2 separate regions of the Homo sapiens genome follow, and region 1 is linked to region 2. A link means that fine-mapping ties the variant in region 2 to the expression of a gene that starts in the linked region. Tissue or cell type: whole blood. Region 2 holds a variant in brackets; the other region holds the start of a gene. All regions are shown on one strand. Distances are from middle to middle.

The links. PIP is the estimated chance that this variant, and not a neighbour inherited with it, causes the effect.
Region 1: it holds the start of OXSR1, and the variant in region 2 is fine-mapped to the expression of OXSR1 in whole blood (TOPMed, PIP above 0.99).

Annotation. Positions count from the first base shown.
Region 1 is chr3:38,164,159-38,166,842 of GRCh38, reverse strand. It overlaps OXSR1 (oxidative stress responsive kinase 1), which reads right to left and starts at 1,306. Exons shown (of 18, transcript NM_005109.3): 1 at 897-1,306. The coding sequence starts at 966. LOC101928234 (a long non-coding RNA gene) reads left to right here and starts at 1,367. Exons shown (of 5, transcript XR_940733.2): 1 at 1,367-1,446. RefSeq lists silencers at 812-861, 912-1,301 and enhancers at 533-1,148, 1,542-1,641, 1,912-2,041, 2,192-2,271, 1,432-2,631.
Region 2 is chr3:38,215,183-38,217,866 of GRCh38, reverse strand. It overlaps OXSR1 (oxidative stress responsive kinase 1), which reads right to left. Exons shown (of 18, transcript NM_005109.3): 5 at 1,716-1,771. Among named protein-coding and RNA genes, the nearest start is that of SLC22A13, 49 kb to the left of the region's middle. The variant A/G (reference allele first, on the strand shown) is at 1,179.

The DNA of each region.
Region 1 (2,684 bases), 51 kb after region 2:
TCATGGCACTTGCCAAAGCCTCTTCAAATTTTTTTTTTTTTTTTTTTTTTTTTGAGTCAGAGTCAGGGTTTGTCGCCCAGGCTGGAGTGCAGTGGCGCGATCTCAGCTCACTGCAAGCTCCGCCTCCCGGGTTCAAGGATTCTTCTGCCTCAGCCTCCCGAGTAGCTGGGATTACAGGCGCGCACCACCACACCCAACTAATTTTTGTATTTTTAGTAGAGACGGGGTTTCACCATATTGGCCAGGCTGGTCTCGAACCCCCGACCTCGTGATCCGCCCGCCTCGGCCTCCCAAAGTGGTGGGATTACAGGCGTGAGCCACCACGCCCAGCCCTTCTTACTTCTTTTTGTCTTCTTATTTAATGTCTACCTCCCCGACTGGAAAGTCAGTTGGAAGGAGTCGTAAGTTGGGTCTCGGTTGCTCAGCGCGGTTCCTGCAGCTTCACCTGGAGGATCCCCAGTTCGCCCCAGCACGGATGGAGGAAAAACTTAAAGCTCCCTATCTATCCCACAATCCCAGAAATCGATGGCTGTGCCCACTTCAAGATCCCATTTCTCACACAGCCTCGGAAAGGCCTGTCCCACACCTGCACTTTCTTTCTCTACAAGACACATGGGCCGCTCCTGTCCACACATTTGAGAATCCTGTACACAAATCTCTCCTGAGCCCCCTCAAGCCTCACCCCACCCCACGCCACCTCACAGGCGCGCGCCTCAAAACCCCCTTCCCGTCTCACACGCGCTCCTCGACACAAGCGTCCTACAAGCCCCCAGCCCCACAAGCGCCCCACGAATTCCTATGAGGGCTGCGCTCCCCGAGCTCCCGCGGCTCCCCACGTTCCCGTGTCCCCCGCCTCCCAGCGCCGCGCCTCCCCCCTCCGCAGCGCCTGCTCTCACCGATCACCTCCTGCAGCTCGTAATCGTCCCTGTTGATGGACCAGGGCAGGGCGCTCGAGTCCTCGGACATGACGGCGGCAGCGGCTCGCGGTCCTCCCTCAAACTCGCTGACCTCGCTCGTCTCCTCGCCGCGCGTCTCCCCACCCCCAACAGCCGCCGCCGCCGCCGCCGCGCCCCCACCAATCGTCTCGGAACAGCCACGGGTCGGACGGCGCCGGGGCGCGGGGTCACCGCGCGGCAGAGCAGCGGGGGCTCAGAGCTCCGGCGGACCTCGCCTCCTGCTCCTCCGAGTCCGGCACTGCCCGGCCCAGCCCACGTCCTGTCCTCGGCCTCCGCAGCAGCAGCGACAGAAGCTTTGCCTGGGCCCAGCCCCTCTGTCCCGCCCTCCACCCCAGCCCCACGCACGGGCCAAACTTTCCCCTCTTCCTCCACCTGCCGACACGCAGCGCGCTGACGTCACTGCGCTGGTCACGCCCCACCTCGGGCCCGCCTCCGGCCGCCATCTCCAGTGTGGCTGGATGTAAAGTGAGCAAGCTAGAAACCCGAGAAGGTAGGAGTTCGCGGTGAAAGGGAAGAAGTGCTTAGGTAGAGGTTCATCGAAGGCATCGAAAAGCCGTAGGAGAGCCTCAAGTAGCACAGAGGCAGTAGCCACACTAAGCATGGCGACCAAAGGGCAGCAAAGTAGAAGGGGCAGAGCCACTTCTAGCGCCTGGGGCACGCTGCTGTCTCCGTCGTCGCATTCATTGGTTTGTTTGAGAAGGAATCAGAAAAGCAATGGGTGTGGGTAGACGTCAGTCATAAATTGGTCCCGCCTCCAGGCTCTTAGCGCGCTTCTCCGTGTTAGGGCTGCAGCCCTTCAAGAGCTCCGTTACCGCGCTCGTCTTACCACTTCCTCTGGAGTGACGTCACGGCGTAACCGTCACACCCTCGAGACGTGCGAAAGGCTCTACAGGGTGTGGAGAAACCCTGAGGGAGCGGCTGGGTGGGGTAGCCTTTGGGTGTGGACCACTGCCAACTAGGATAAAAGGCCTTGGGCCACTGGTCGGAGTGAAACTGGAAGTTTGCCTGGTGACATTTTTTTCAAGGCGGACGTTCTCTCTAACGCTTGTCGCGGCGCTGTCTCTCGCGGGTCCACCCTGCACTGGGCGGGTTCTGTCCATTCGCAGCTTTAGATCTGAAGCTCAAATAAGCACCTGCCTTGAGGGACTCGGGAGGTTGTCTTTCTTCCCCCCGGACAGGGCTTGGGGTATTAAACAAGTGAGATCGACCCACGGATTTGGGGGTTGTCTCACGGGCGTTGGCTTTTGTCGCCCCCACTGAACAGTTTTCTCAGTTTGACTACGTACGGCCGTTAGAGAAATTAGCGAGCTGAAGACTGAACACGCTTGGTAAATTGGATTTTAAAAAATAATGAGCATCCAACAGGGATAGGGCTAGGTGCGAAACTGTTCTAGGTTGGACACCTTTCAGTCCAACGGCAGTCTTTAAGGAAGAGACCTTAGGCCGGGTGCGGTGGCTCACGCCTGTAATCCCAACACTTTGGGAGGCGGAGGCGGGCGGACCACCTGAGGTCAGGAGTTCGAGACCATCCTGACCAACATGGTGAAACTCCCTCTCTACTAAAATACAGAAAAATCGCTGGGCGTGGTGGCTGGCGCCTGTAATCCCAGCTACTAGGGAGGCTGAAGCAGGAGGCGAAGGTTGCAGTGACCCGAGAGCATGCCACTGCACTCCAGTCTGGGCAACAGACGGAGACACCGTCTCAGAAAAAGGAAGAGACCTTCACCT
Region 2 (2,684 bases):
GTATGAGTTCACTTAGGTACTTAAAGTAGTCAAATTCATGGAGACAGAAAGGAGAATGGTGGTCACCCATGGCTGGGGTGAGAGGTGGAATGAGGAATTATTTTTTAGTGGGTACAGTTCAGGACCAGCCTGGCCAACATGGAGAAACACTGTCTCTACTACAAATACAAAAATTAGTCGGTGGAGGGGTGCACGCCTGTAATCCCAACTACTTGGGAGGCTGAGGCACAAGAATCTTTTGAACCTGGAAGGCACAGGTTGCAGTGAGCCAAGAGTGCACCACTGCACTCCAGCCTGGGCAACAGAGCGAGACTGTCTCAAAAAAAACAAACAAACAAACAAACAAACAAAAACCCGGTATTCCAGTATATAATTAACCACAATTTATTTATCCATTCTACTGGCATTGGGATTATTTCAAACTTGTAATGACTATGAACACTGTGGCACAGATACGGACGAGTTTCTCTGGGCTATACACCTAGGAGCAAAAGTCTAACAGTATGCATATCTTCAACTGTAATGAAATGGTTGTACCAATTTATATTCCCATCATCAGAAATGAGATTTTTTTCCTTGCTTTATACCCACACCAACAATTAGTACTGTCAAGATGTTTTTGCCAGGCCAATCAATTTAACGTGTTATCACAATGTGATTTTACTTTGCATTTAACAAATTACTAGTGTAAGCTTGAACATCTTTTACTACATTTATATTTGGATGTCTTCATTTGGGAAGTGCCTATGCCAGTTTTCTGCCCACTTTTTTAGAGTTTTTTTTTCTCTCAGTGAGTTTTTTATACGCTTTACACTTGAGCCCTTTAACAATTATTCATGCTGCAAATATCTTCTCTACTCTGTGGTTTACCCTTTTACTCTGTTAATAGTAATAAACCATTTGTTCCTCTTTTGATGAGTAGAAGTTGCTCATTTTAAAGGAGTCAAATTTATCAATCTTTCCCTTTATATTAGAGCTTTATGTGACTTGGTTAAAATATTTCCTTACCTCACGGACATGAAGATGTTCGCCTAAATTATCTTCTTAAAGATGAAGAAATAATTTAAGATTTGGGTGATTATCTTCCTCCTGCCAAACACCTGACTGTTCTAGCAGTCTGGGACCAAGCTGAGGTTTTCTCAGATGATCTGCTTGCTAGACAATCCCTGGGTACAGTC[A/G]TTCTGGAGTCTCAGCCTGGAGGAGGGGGTGTTTCATCAGGATAGCCACTTTTGGTAGGCCCTGGACTGCAACTCTTATCCCTTCAGCTCTGAAACTGCCAAAAGTGCACTTCTACTTCTCAGGCACTTTTTCCTAATTGACAAATACTCCATTTCCCCCAGGACAGAAGAAGCTCTGTATAGCCTCTATATAACGTACTTATTCTTAAACACAATGAAGATCCTCAACTACTTTTCCTTTAAAGGAAAGTACAGAATGCTATGAGAACCCATAGCAGAAGACCCTAATGGAAGTAAGGAGTGGATAGCTGGAAGGAAACAAGTAATGGTCAGAAAAAAATGTCTAAGAGCAGAAATGAAGGATGAGTATGAGAAGATATCTTGAGAGTCGGTGGCATCCTATGACATGCCAACAGAGGATGCTTGAATAGAGATGGTCCAGGGAACAGGAGAGAATGCTGATTAAGGAAACATAAAAGATAAGTAATGTGGTTCTACTGACCATTAAATCAAATAAAAAGAAATACTAATCATTACCTGCAATCTGTACTGAGCCATCTTCTCCAAGAAGAATGTTTCCAGCTTTCACATCTCTTTAAAAAAAAAAAAAAAGTTATGTATCAAAAAACATCTATTCTTTGGAGTAACATAATTTAAGCAATTGTTTACTATATTCATGTAATACTAGCAATATTTAAATGTCCTATTTTATATTAAAGGATATTAAGACTAATAGTAAAATTGTTGTCACTGGTACTAGAAACCCACACATTAAAAAGAAAGCTAGAAAGGTTCTTACTATAATATCTAGAAAACACAAGTGATCAAATATTCTTGATCGGGATAAAAGTGGCCAAAGAATGTGACCCTCACCTAATTCTACATTTTGAAATATATTTTTTTCTATACCCCAATGAATTATCAAATTTTTAAAATCATCAGTATGCAACTGAAAACAGGGAACATTCTTTGCCTGTAACAAAAAGATGGAAATTACTCAGGCATCTCTATAGTTTTAACTATTTATAACACGTAATATAGAAAAATATTCTTGTTTTAAAAACCTAAACACAACTAAAAAAGCCAAAATCCCTTTGACCATCATTCTCAAGTCTAAGTACTCTCTCCAAAGTTTTCAACTATTATCAGTCTGGTTAACAGACTATATACCGATGACATATCTGGGCTTTTCTCCCAATGTAAACAATATTATACTATCCATTCAAATCTACAACTTAGTTTTTTTTTAGCAAAAACAAGTTTTTGGCAAAATTTAAAATCCCCAAATCCTAAGAGTAGCAAAACCATTTCTTGATAACCTAGAGGAACTCTCACAATTTACAGGGAAAGTACAAGGGGGTTCTACTGCAGCATTGTTTGTAATAAAAAACAAAAACTAGTAACAGCCAGCAACAGTAGAAAGGTTAAATTATTTCTATTACATCCATGAAATAATGTCAATCAACATGTTGTGACATGAAATGCTAACATACATTATTAAATGAA